Homo sapiens: one gene and its partner. The protein of the gene in region 1 purifies or fractionates together with the protein of each later gene. This does not show direct contact. Each region holds a gene or a part of one and is shown on either strand. Other genes may lie near its edges.

Region 1 (6,981 bases):
TCTGATAGGGACAGCTTCCAAGTGGAAAAACTTTATATAATATTATTAGGAGCTGCCTTCTAGCAGTTCAGGCAAGATACGCATGTTCTCCAATGGCACCCACCAGACTGAGAAATGTGATACAAATTAAAAATTCCCCAAAGCAAACCTTTGTCTGAATTGCCCTGACCGTAAGAATCCCATTCTGTTGAGACTTAAGACATTTTCCATTATTTCTCAATTTATAGCATATACTTATTCCTACCTAAAGAAATCACTTTTCTTTTCTTCAAAAAAAGTTAGATCCTGATACAATTAGTATGACATGGAAATTCTTGGGTCATTCATTTATCTTAAGCAGTATTGTTTATGTTAAACTTCTGGCAAAAGAAAGGATAAGGGGTAGCTTTCTTTTGGGTGTGTGGAGCTGGGGCAGGCAGCAGATTTTGACCTGTAAGTATGAACATTTCCAGAATTCTACTCCTATACTTTGAGGCCCTATGGAGGAAAATACACGTTCCCCTCATACATCTGGACAGACTGATTTGTCCTAAGTCATATACAAATTGCTGACAGAGGAACTGATGCTGAATCTATCAGATGACCTAACCACTAATAGTAAATGATTCAGATTTAATAGAAATCATGAAGTAGGGTACAAGGATATTTCTAATTGCATAAGTATCATGGATATTATTTCTTTTGTATTATTTTAATTGACTTCAAATAATTCTTTGGGGAGAGAGAGGAAATAAACTACGGGTATTGACATAAGGTCAGGGAAATCAAACAGAGAAGTGGTTTGCAAGTTGTAATAACACCCCATTGCAAGTTGCAGCCCTGGTGAGGGACCCAAGGCAACAGTGAGTAACACTAATAAATGTCAATCAGAAAAATTTAACAACAAAAGAGGCAGCAAACTGTCACATATGGCAGAATAATCCAGGCTGAATGCTTTGTGAACTTGCATCTGACCATCCATTAATGTTCTAAGGTTGGGGGTATGCGTAGTAGATACAATTAGGAGACTTAAAGCTAAAGAGAAGCATCTCTCAGTTCTTCTCATCCCTTCTAAATCCAGAGGGATTTGATCTTTCATTCACTGGGGGCCAGGGCTGGCAACTACCCATATAAAGTAAGCACCTACTATGTGCCTGGCATCCATGGTCTTAGGCGATGGCTTCCAGGAATTGCCAGGATCCCTGATGGAGGCTCCTTCTGTGCTGCCTGACCTGCTTTGCTCCTGCCACTGCAGACACCCACGCTGCTGCAGACTCCGAGCCACAGCAAGGCTCAGAAGATCAAGGGACCAGTCACAGCAGCCTTTTTAACTTTGGGAAAACCCAATGCTCACTTCACTCAAACGTTGCAAAGTGGTGCCATGACCCTTTAGCTCTTGGCTCACCAATTCAAAGAGCCACATCACATACAGCCCTTAAGCTGCCCACGGCATGATTCCGTGTCTAGTTCCTTTCCAGGTCCCCCCAAGCGGAAGACAGTTCTGGCAGGGAGTCTGGGCAAGATTACTACAATATTTAGCCTTTGTCCCTTCTTTTGCTACGTCTTATTGTAGAATGAGGCACACAGGTCTGAGAGATTGAGTATGCTGGACTTGAGACCTGTACTCAAAAGGTCCCTGCAGGACCGCAGGTCAGCTTAATCCAGCCCAGGAATCTCCATTTCAAAGATGAAGAAACTGAGGTTCAAAGAAAGCAAATCATGGTCTCTACTCAGAGTACTGGAAGGCCTGATATAAACTTAACCCCAATGCCATGCCTCCTGCCTTAGTAAATTTACTGAGCACCTAACCAGTGAGAAATAGGCAGAAGTGAATAAGGCCAGATTTCACTCCCTTCACTACTGGTGTGAATGGATAAAGGTAACTCCACTTTCTCTCTGGGCTTTAGTTTTCTCATCCATTAAGTGAAAGACAAGACTGAATTGGTGATTTCTAATGTGCCTTTAAGCTCTGAAACTCTCATAAGAGTTGAGGATATAATTATGTGTTGGTGTGTGCAAATGTATATGCATCATATATACAAACACAGACACATATATACATATGGTATCTTACAATTAAATACCATTAGCAACCACACATCTTGCCCAATCCCTTCCTGCGACCATGTTTTCCTAATCCCAAACCGAAACTGGACACTGCAACTCATCGTCGCAGCACCTCAGAATCCAGGGGGTGTGGTCAGTGCCCACTGGCGTCCCTCCAAACACCCATGTAAGCGTACTTTAACATGTAAGCGTACTTTACAAGACATATACTAAGTCATTAAATTCCTTGGAAGAAACGGCCAATCTGAGGCAGGGCTGGACTGTGGGTAACAGAACACACCGCAGGAAGCATAAGTTAAAGGTGACAGCCCGTGGCTGCCCAAATTTGGGGCTCCGCTGCCAATGCACCGGGAGGGCAGTGAGTGCCCAGGCTTGGAACAAGCCTGGCTCGGAGCCCACATTTGAGGGCAGGAACCTGCACGCCCGGGTTTGCGCATCCAGCGTGAGCAACTCTGAAAACGTGCAGTGCAGGGCGTGCAGCGGGGCACCGGTCCTGTTTCCTCTCGCACGTGGCGCCTGGCGTGGGGCTGCAGCGCGGGGCCGCAGCGCGGGGCCTCCTCCCCTCCCCGCCCCCCACCCCGCCCCAAGGGCCGGCGCTAGGACCCCGCGAGCCGCACGCACTTCCTGGCGCCGCCGTCCAAGCCTCCCGCTCGGCGCCCCCGGCTCCCGCCCGCCGCCGCCGCCGCCGCCGCCCTACCTGGTGAAGCAGTACTCGCAGTGGTTGCCCCGCTCGTTGACCGTGAGCACGTAGGCATAGGCCGGGCAGGAGAACAGCAAGTCCCCCACCTGGAAGGGCTGCAGAGCCCGCAGCCCCCGGCCTTTGCCCGGGCTGCAGAAGCGCTCCAGGCCGCCGAGGCCCTCGGCCCTCATGGTGGCGGCGGGGCGCGGCCGCCGGCTGTGCCCGAGCTGCGGCTCCCGGCGAGCTGTTATTGGAGACGCGTCACCTAGAGCTGCGGGGGGCGGGGTGGGAGCCGCCCGGCGGACGCGGCGGCGGCTCCCCGCTCCCCGGAAGGGAGGGCGGCCCCGCCCGGGCCTCGCGCGCCCCCGCGGGGAGGGGGACGGGCCCGGCGGCCCCGCCTAGCGCCGCGACCCTCGGCGGCCGCCCCGCGCGCGCTCCGGGCCGTTTCCGGTGTGGCCGCGACAAAGAGCCGCAGCCCCTGTGGCTTCTGCGAGGAGGCGTGAGGCGTGTGCGCCTCCGCGGCGTCTCCACGGAGCGAGCGGGACGCGCCCTCCTCCTCGGTGGGAGGGAGGGGGGTCACCTGCGGGGACCAGGTATCCGAGGGCCACCCCTAGACAGTCAGCCTGGCCCGAAGGATGACCAGCCCCCGGTAAATAGAAGGGGGCGAAGCCAGCTCCGAAACCTTACGTTCGCTGTCCCTTGTAAAGACCCTAGAGGCAGTGATCGGGGAACGCCAAGGAGAAAGCGGCAGAGGGGAAACCACAGTAGAGAAGTTTGGTGTGCAGAGGGTTGAAGTGTGCTTTTCCAAGGTTAGAGGTTTTTAAACCTTGTGGCTTTAATGGGAACGTAGTTTGCCCTCTGCTCCTCTAGTGGAATTACATGGACGGAAGAGGAAATGCATTGGCCGGCCCAGCTCACCGAGTCTCTGAGGCATGCTGCGAACGTTGCAGAGGAAGCCAGAGAGAACCTTGCCTTCAAGGAATTTAGGCTGTTGGGGGATAATGCGATGCTGTGGCCAGTGTCCAGGACACTGCGCTAGAGTTTGCAGTAGTTTTAATATGCTTGACCACCCACGAACTGTGATCTTAGAAAAGTCACTTGGGTTAGGAGTCAAAGGATTTAAAGCCCACAAAGCCTGAAACGTAAATCCTATACACATGCACGCTATTACTTTTCATATGAGAAAGGAAAATATAATCCGTGTTCCACATGATTATGTAAAGACTGGAATTGATGTACATGCAGTAAAGACTAAAATTGTGACGAGATCATTTAGCAGAAACCACTACTTCAAAATAGGACCTCAAACAGTTACCTGTGTAAGTTCAGGACTGGTTGAGCAAAGGGAAAGGATTAATATGATTGGAGATGTAAAATCAGTGGAATTTTTGGCATTTCAGTAAAATGTCTTTATCAGCTGGGTGTGGTGGCTCAGCCCTGTAATCCCAACACTGTGGGAGGCCAAGGTGGGAGGATCATTTGAGCCCAGGAATTGGAGAGTTGGAGACCAGCTTGGGCAACATAAAGACCCCGTCTCTATGGGAAATTAACCACCTCTCAAGTGGTGCTGAGGTGGGAGGATAGCTTGAGCCTGGGAAGTCAAGGTTGCAGTGAGCTGTGGTGACTCCATTATACTCCAGCCTGGGTGACAGAGCAGGACCTTGTCTCAAAAGAAAACAAAAAAGCCCTTATTAGTGGCAAACTAAATAAGCCTCTAACCCGTCTTCAAGTAAAGGAAGTTATGATAGTATTTTCATTTATGCATTTTAAGAAACTTCGACTGACTATGGCCAGCAACTGGGATAGAAAGATGGACATCAGCCGGCTGTGGTGGCTCACGCCTGTAATCCCAGCACTTTGGGAGGCCGAGGTAGGCGGATCACCTGAGGTCGAGAGTTCAAGACCAGCCTGACCAACATGGAGAAACCTCATCTCTACTAAAAATACAAAATTAGCCAGGTGTGGTGGTGCATGCCTGTAATCCCAGCTACTCGGGAGGCTGAGGCAGGAGAATCGCTTGAACCTGGGAGGTGGAGGTTGCTGTGAGCCAAAATCGCACCATTGCACTCCAGCCTGCGCAAGAAGAGCGAAACTCTGTCTCAAAAAAAAAAAAAAAAAAAAAGTGGACAAAATGTAGTCCTAGGTCCTTGCATTTGGCACATTCAAGTTTGATAATACCATTAGTTATTGAGTATTGTTGACCAGGCATCGTGCTCCATCATTAAACACATTATCTGGTTTATCTTTACAACAGGCTAATGAGTTAGGTATTATGCCCCTCATTGCCAAAATTAGGAAGGAAACTAAGACCCAGAAGGAATGATTTTCAAGGCCACACAATAAATTGCAGAATTTGGTTTCCAAGTCAGTCTGAATTCAAGGTCCATGTTCCTAACCACAGTGTTTTGCTGCAAACAAACACAGTTCACTGGGATAAGTGCAGTTATGGTGGCTTGTACAAAATGTTCTGTGGTAGTACAGGCAGGGAGTGACAGCTTTAGCCTGCTAAACAGTCAAGACAGGCATCACATTCAAGTAACGTTAGAGCTGAGCCTGAAGGATGGACAGGATTTTGCAAGTGGAGGTGGGGAGAAGAGTTTTCTGGGCAGAGAGAACTGCGTACAAAGACAGAAGACCCTGAAAGCACAGAGCTTGTAGTTGGGGGCCCCTGAGCATCTGGAAGAGAGGACAGGAAATGAGGCAGGAACAGCTGAAGAGCATCTTCTCCAGAGGTGAGTTCTGCCCCAGAGGCCATGGGAGAGCCAGTTAAAGCGTTTAAGTGAGGGGTGGCACATTGAGTCCAGTGTTTTAGACTGATCTGCCAGCAGCATTGTGGGTTGGCTGGGGTGCCAACATTCAGCACTTCATAACTGTTTACATGTATATAAACAGCCTTGGCATGTGAGACCACTGACAGTTTGCATTTGTCTGTGTGATGACCTGATTAGTGTTTACATCCTCCACCAGACTGTACAAGCTCCATGAGGGCAGGGAATGAGTCTGTTTTTGTTACCCTTACATCACCAGCTCTTATCACTACTCCTGGAACACAGAGAGAATGGAAAAAATATTTAAAGGTTGAATAAACGTCATGGAATCTCATTCTGATTTCTGGGGGCTCTAACCAGCAAAAAGATGAAAAGACTGACGTAGAAGTAAACAATTACAATACAGTAGACAGTTTACTGTTTCAATGATTAATTGTGCAAAGTAATCTACCTGTTTACTTTTTTTATTGCAAGTAACTTTTTCCACTTTAATTGGGAAAGATTTCCACAGCTGAGAAAAAAGCAATTACATAGCTACCGAATTATCTTTCCAGATGAGTGCTGGCTTATTCTTGAGGGTGGAGGTGACTGTGATTTGAGAACACTGGAAAAGAAACCGCCTCATTTCAGAAAAATCCCTGTGATGAACTTAAATGACTCGAGATGGGGAAATGGTCACTGAAGCAGTAGCCATGAATTTAGGAGCTTAAATTACTAAGAAAACTGTGTTTAAAATAAACAGCCAAAGAATGGCAATAAACCAGCCCGGGGAGACTGATGACAGCGCTCTTCATGAAGCCCATACTTGTCACTCTGCCACTCTGTAATCTCACATTCCGTGAAGTCTTTGAGCAGCCAGGACCCATCCACTTTTCCTACGCCCTCTGCTCCATAACGTAGGAGGTATGGAATTTGAAAGGAGTGTTTTTGGTTACTTTGCCTCACTGAAACTCAGGAGAAGTGGTACAAGGACGAAAACTCCTTTGCTTAATTTCTCTAACCTAGAAGTTGATCTAATTTATGAGTAAAAGATCCTTCCAACCACAGATTAGCACATGAAAGAAATAGCTCTGGCCTAGGGAAATGAAGCCTTAGCAAAGAAGGTATCCCAGTGAACGTGAGCAAAGGGCCTAGATGCTGTATAGTTCTGCATCTATGTCTACATGTCACTTATTGAGGACATACTATGTACTTACACTGTGATAGATCCTAGTCATACCAAGGTGTAAAGACCAACATACATGAAAACAGTTATGAAGTGCTGAATGTTGGCACTCATAGATATTAGGTTCCAATCCCTGGAATCTATAAATGGCTTCAAAGGGTCTTGCAAATGTGTTTTAAGGATCTTGAGAGAGTGAGAGTATCCTGGAACATCCAGGTGGGTTCTCTGTGCAGTTGCAAGTTTTCTGATGAAGGACAGAAGGAAATTTGACACAGACAGGAGAGGAGGCAGCAATGTGACTATGGAGGCAGTGATGAGAGGGA
Region 2 (7,039 bases), on another chromosome or scaffold:
TCGAGACCAGCCTGGCTAACACAGTGAAACCCCGTCTCCACTAAAATACAAAAAATTAGCAAGGCGTGGTGGCGGGCGCCTGTAGTCCCAGCTCCTTGGGAGTCTGAGGCAGGAGAATGGCATGAACCTGGGAGGCGGAGCTGGCAGTGAGCCGAGATCTCGCCACTGCACTCCAGCCTGGGTGACAGAGCGAGACTCCGTCTCAAAAAAAAGAAAAAAGAAAGAAAAAAAGAAACCCAAGCATTCTGAGTCCAAGGCCAGGTTTCTTTGCTCTATGCTAAACATTTTCTTCAACCTTAGTACTATTTATTTATATTATATCTTCTTTCCAGGTTAAACGCTCATTTGACAATAGTGAAGAAGCTGGAAAGTCATTAAGACAAAAGTCGTTAAGACAGTGTGTCTCAAAATGTGGTCCTGGGACCACCTGGATCAGATTTCACCAAAGTACTTGTCGGGACATAAGGAGGTCTGGATCCAACTGCAGATCTATTAGATGATAATCCGTGGATTGGTCCCCAAAAATTCCTTTTTAATAAACTCATCAGGTAATTCTGTTGTATAACCACTGTGTCTCATTCTTTGCAAACCTCTACTGTTATCTGGAGTTTCATACTCAAAAAATTCTGCATTCTCATAGAGGGCCATCTTTTGGATTACGGGTTTTGTGGTGGAATGTCACAAAATTCTACACTCATCCTGAGGGTCATCTTTGGATCTTACAATTACTAAGACATGTCCCTAAAAACAAGCAAAGAGGACAACAGCATATACTACTGAAATGAGAAAACATGTACTATGTGTATACTCTCATTAGACTGGTTCTAGATGTCTTCAAACACAGATCTCATTTCAACCTGGAGGTAGGCAGCATCGTCATCTGTTCACTCTGGGGAACCTTGCCTAGAGAAATAGAGTACTCCTCCCACAGTTACCTAGCTCAAGGTTAGCAGATGTTTCCATCTGTATCTTCTCTAGCTCTTTGTATTTTCTTTATTCTGCAACAAGGATTCCCCACCACTGGGCCAAGGACAGTGGTGGTGAGCGGTGGGTGAGTCAGCATTACCACCTGATCTCCGCCTCCTGTCAGATCAGAAGTGGCATTTGATTCACATTCTTGAGTGAGAATGTGAGAATGTGAACCGCACACGTGAGGGATCTAGGTTGTGCATTCCTTCTGAGAATCTGATGATGTGAAGTGGAACAGTTTCTTCCTGAAACCATCCCCCACAACCCCCGTCCATGGAAAAACTGTCTTCCATGAAACCCCAACCTCTGTGCCAAGGACAGGGCCACACAGCAGGAGGTAAGCAAAATGGAGGTCCTTGGTGCTAAAAAGGTTGGGGACCCCTGTTCTACAATATAACTCCCCCCAATGAATTACTGCTCTCATTTCAAGAATTCAGAGGAAAAGTTTTCCAGACTTCTTGAGCAGACAACCTAGTCAATCTCTATTTTCCAAGTCTTATACTTAGCCAGTAAGCATATTCCTTCTAAAGTTAATAAAAGTTGTCACTGAGTAGCACAAAATGGTATAAAACACCAAAATTCATCAAGAATAATTCTCTGTAATGAAACTACCCAAAACTCCCTATATCTCTGGGATGTTAGTAACTCTAGGAAAAAATTACGTAGAAATATGCAACTGTCCGGGCCAGCCTGAGACCTCTAGATGCCCCGATGGCATCATCTCACAGAAGCCTGGGTGCACCATTCCAGCTAGCACCACCTTCAGGATCATAAAGCTATTCTCCCCAAATTGGTGAATGAAGACTGGATTCCAAGTAAATCCAAGATCAGTCAAAATCATGGGATTGTGAATAACATAACAGAGCAGCCCACATCCCTGACGAGGTGGCATAAAATCTGTGAATGGAATATGACATTTGTTACCATTCTGTTGTTGAGGACGAAGGAAGGGTTGGGAACTCAGAGAGAGATCAAAGGAAGCTTAATATTTTCCATCTCTGGGAGCCCAGTGACCCCGTACACCTACTAAACTATCCCAGACCCTGGATATTTTGATTCTGGAGAGTCTAGTTCAGGTCCAGACTGCTGCATCTGCTGTCCCTCGAGGCATGCCAAGAGGCACATGGGAGAATGATGGGCACCCAGGAACTCAGGTTAGGCTTTGCTGGATGAGCTCGCCCCTCTATAAAGAGATGACATTAAAATCTAAATTTAAAAAAGTCAGGAAATCTATGGTGAAAATTTGCTTGTTTTAGTTTGTTAGAACTCAATATTCACACACAACATTGAGATATACATAATAATCATCAGAGATTTTAATTTTTTTAAATATCCTGTTTTACCACAAGCCTCCTGATGTGTATATTAGAAGAGAGTCATGAAGTGTAGGCAGCAAGCAGAAGGAGGCAGAGGGGCTGGACAACAAGGCTTCACATCAACACCATCATTAAGGTAATGATCCTTTATCAATATTGCACAAGACCAAAAGAAAATATTTATTTACCATTAAAAATAATGATGTGGGTATAGATTTGCATGCATGAAAAAGCTCCTCCGAGACATACTGTTACATTTAAAAAAAAAAAAAATTTGGCCTGGTGCGGTGGCTCACACCTGTAATCCCAGCACTTTGGGAGGCCAAGGCGGGCAGATCATTTGAGGTCAGGATCATTCGAGACCAGCCTTGCCAACGTGGTAAAACCCCATGTCTACTAAAAATTCAAAAAAAAAAAAAATAGCTGGGCAGGGTGGCGGTTGCCTATAATCCCAGCTACTTGGGAGGCTGAGGCAGGAGACTCGCTTGAACCTGGGAGGCTCACTTGAACCCGGGAGGCAGAGGTTGCTGTGAGCTGATATCGTGCCACTGCACTCCAGCCTGGGCAACAGAGTGAGACTCTGTTCTCAAAAAACAAACAAACGAAACAAACAAACAAAAAATGGTTACATAGAAGTATTTAAGACAGAAGTCTATTCATGTAAAATATTATGTAATCTACATATGAGTCTGTATATGTACAAAATGATGCTACTGCTATTTATGAAGCACTTGTGATATACCAGATACTGTGCTCAGTGTTTGCATGTATTACATCATTTAATCCTCATATCCTTCAGATATAAGCATTATGCCCATTTTATAAACGAGCAAACAGGCTCTAGGAAGTTAAAAGAACCATGCCACATAGTTATTAAATAGCAAGGCCGAGAGCCCAACCCAGGTGTGTCCTATTCCACTCTGATACGTAATACATTCAGAAAGGTAGATAATGACATTGCCTTTTTTGGTTTTTCTGTATTGTTAGACTATATTTTAAAGTGAGAATGTATTATTTTTAATATCTCAAATAACTGAGATACATTCATTGAAAGGATAAGGAAAATCTTCCCATATTTCGTATATCTCATTTTCTACCTTAAACAATCCAAAAGTAGTATTTAATCCTCAGTTAAATACTCCCACAAAAAGATGGAATGAATTGCCAAAATATCAATCATTGAGAGAAAAAAACATCACATTCAATTTCTGCAAAATTTTGGATAACTCCATTAACTAAAGACCATCTGTCTCCAGATTCCTATTCTTCCAACTCATCCTACACTTATCACCAGAAAAAATATTCTTCTTCCCTACTCAACCACTTTCAATAACTCCCCACTACCTAGCAAAGCCCCAAATATCCCTTAGTCTCATATCCAAAAACCTTCCACAATCAGGCCTCACACTCCCTACTTAGATGCACCTCCCATTACTCCCCAGCATACAGGCTATATTCCAGCTAAAGGCAGGTCTCTTGACTTCTGGAATGTCCTATCTGGAATGTCTTCTCAATGACTAATTGAGAGTCTCTATCAAAATCCAGTCATCTTCCCAAGGCCAAAATGGAAAGTCAAAATGGGAAATGAAGAATTTTCAATAGATTTTCCCTATAAAAGGATCCTTTTATAGGAAACAATCAATAATACATAGAAAAACAATCACTGATACACAGAATGGACAGTGTAAAATAAGCATTACATATTATAAAGTACATTTCAAAAAATTGCATAGCCAAATGATAAACCATATTTCATAAGATTCATGACACTGATTATAAGAGATAACATCATGTTGTATAGCACTCTGCCAATTAAGCTATGACTCACACATTTTTAGAAACTGGAATTTTCATTTTCTTCTTATCTAAAGAACTCTGATTGAGTTATTCAACGCATAAAGAAAATATAAACAAAATAGATTGGCCAAGGTGTTCCCAAAAATTCTTACATATTCAGAATCCAACTCTACCAAATTGCACGTCAACTAAGAGTTACTGCTGTCTATGCTTTTCCACACAATATCAACTTGGGTCACCACGAGCACTAGAAATGTATCACTTAAGAGTGCTCCATTACTGTCTCCAGGATTTTCTCCAATCCACTAACATCCAATGTCCAATTTTTGATGCATATTCACAAACAATGAATTAAGTTGCCAGCTTTTTCTCTGCAACATGGCTGAGAGCCATGTAAGACATATCCCAATTTCAGAGATGTTAAATGTGAAAAAATAACTTTCTTTTAGAAATGATGAAATTTGGGGCTTGAATCAAATACAAAGAAACTCGCTATTTGAGGATGTAAACACAGGCATGTACAAAAATGACCAAAGAAGAGAGAGCTAAAACAGAAAATAGTTTTCCTCTCTTTAGTTGAATGCTAGGAGATCAATATCATCTCCCAGCACTAATCCTTTTCAGCTTTTGTCACCCTACCATTTGATCCCTCCCCTCTTCAGAGGACACCCTCCACACTGATGTCCTCCATGACACCAATTAGAGCTGGCAGGAAAGGAAACCGACTCCCTGCAGTTCTTCCCTCAAAGAAACCATTCTTCTTTTCTCTTGGTACCTGCAGAATTCTCTTCCCTGATATGGCAAAACCTCTAGGATCTACCAATTTGAGCTACAGACAGAGGTAACAACCTTGTTATGAAGAGGACCACGCCATTAAAAATAATGACTACATACATGAGTCTGGTAATTCTCATTTTTAAATAAAGCAGCAGTGCTTTTTAAGCTTTCTCCAAGATTTTTTTTTTTTTTTTTTTTTTTGGTAGTAAAGCGTAAGTTACAAATGGCCCCATTTTTTATACAATTTCGTAAGTATTTACTGAATGCTTTAAGTGTCTAGACCTTTACTTGGTTTGGGAAAGAAACCTGAAGAGAAATAACTCCCTATCCTCATCAAGCACCCACCCAATATAACTGGAGAGAAAAATATATACTCAAGGCAGGTTAAATATTACATTTGTTTTCTAGGTCTAATATAGACCTTTCTGCTTTCTCTCTCTCTCTCTCTCTCTCTCTGTTTTTAGTTTGTAAGGCAGGGTTATAAGAACAATGTATCAAAATGTCAGCAATCTAAAAATTAAGTTGTCAGCTTTTTCTCTGTACTGCAAATTACAAAAGAATTGGTGCTAATAGAAGCTTACAATTCCAAAGTATGCAATTTAACCAATCATCGCAAGGACTAAAAATGCAACACCAAAGACATTTCAACCAAGTAATCTGCAGTTCTGGCATCTAATTTCAACTTGTCTTCTTGTGCCATTCTTCCCAATTTGTTTCTTCTTTATGCTTTGAAACTGTGCTCTGGAATTGCTACATAGTTAAGAAAGAACTGCCCAGAGCTCCTACATACATAATACACTCACATGAAAAATGTCAGTCATGGAAAAGACAAGGAACATCTGCAGCCATTCTGTGGTTCTTCATTTTTTATGCTGATATTACTATAAATTCAGAAAGGAAAACATGAAATATACTTTATTGCTTCCGAATTTCAGTCTTATCATTTATTCAACACTAATTTGGGTGAAATATGTCTCTGATCATCTCTGCACTAGAATTCTAAATTAGGATTAAAATGCTAAATTATAAAATAATTAGTACATAAAACAAAAATGGAAATGGAAATCAATTACTCCAAATCACTGCAGATATCTTCTACTTATGAAACACCTTTTTCCATTTTTTCCTATTGCCAACTGCAATCACATCACTTAAAAATAAATGAGAACATTGCCTACCCAATAAGTAAATTGCATCTTTAGAGAGACCACATACTTTTTTTAAAAGACATTACTAATAACCTAAATCAAGAATTTAAAAAGAATGCTGTTTTAGTACAAAGAACAGTAAGAAATATGTTGCCTCAATATATAAATAAAAATATACTCATTTTTCTTGTTCTTTAATTTTGTAAATGGCCCTTCTAAAAAATTACAGTTTTCTCTACAAAAGGAATATTCAGTGCTTTCTACTATTTCACAAAAAACAAACAAACAAAAAACGTCTCCTTCCTTACTCTTGGAGACACATTTTCCCATGCAGTCTTATATTCATTTACACCTTTCAATTCTCCAAACAATACCTCGCAATGCAGTTCAACTTGAGAAAGGAGTCTCATTGATTGATCAGGCAAAGTTTTAAAGCCAGCAAGATGCTTCAGATGGTCTGGTTTTGCCTGCCCCACCCTTGTTTCCTTTGAGCCATAGTGATGTCACAACACCAGGCAGGACAATGACTTCACTGCTCCAGTCCTTGCTTCTGAGCACAGAATTCCCCACAGCCAAGGCAAATCAAATAACAGCAGAACCCTCCCGGGCTGAGTGCCTGATGAATTCCCAACAAATCAGCAGCTAGCTAGCCGTTTGAAAGAAATAGATGCAGCGATTGCACGATTAAGGATCTCTCTAACTGAAGTGGTGCTAAAGATAAATTTGATTCATAGGTTTCAATGGTGAGTCTATATTTCACGGAAAACTGATGGGGTACTTAGGGGAGACTATGGGAATTAAAGACGGCCAGGGTAGATTACTCAAGAACCCTCTCTCCGCCGGGCGCGGTGGCTCACGCCTGTAATCCCAGCACTTTGGGAGGCCGAGACGGGTGGATCACGAGGTCAGGAGATCGAGACCATCCTGGCTAACACAGTGAAACCCCTTCTCTACCAAAAATACAAAAAAATTAGCCGGGCGTGGTGGCGGGCGCCTGTAGTCCCAGCTACTCGGGAGGCTGAGGCAGGAGAA

The links. Proteins that work in one complex are often made in the same cells at the same time.
Region 2: the proteins of SMYD2 (region 1) and EPB41L3 purify together in Homo sapiens (affinity purification with western blotting; 2 studies listed by BioGRID and IntAct, with this or other methods). This does not show direct contact.

The regions. Positions count from the first base shown.
Region 1 is NC_000001.11:214,277,190-214,284,170, reverse strand, and holds the start of SMYD2 (N-lysine methyltransferase SMYD2), read right to left. Parts: upstream 3,013-6,981; 5' UTR 2,917-3,012; coding exon 2,744-2,916; intron 1-2,743. UniProt on the Homo sapiens protein: Protein-lysine N-methyltransferase that methylates both histones and non-histone proteins, including p53/TP53 and RB1. Specifically trimethylates histone H3 'Lys-4' (H3K4me3) in vivo. The activity requires interaction with HSP90alpha.
Region 2 is NC_000018.10:5,533,959-5,540,997, forward strand, and holds part of EPB41L3 (band 4.1-like protein 3), read right to left. Parts: intron 6,467-7,039; exon of another isoform or gene 6,382-6,466; intron 1-6,381. UniProt on the Homo sapiens protein: Tumor suppressor that inhibits cell proliferation and promotes apoptosis. Modulates the activity of protein arginine N-methyltransferases, including PRMT3 and PRMT5.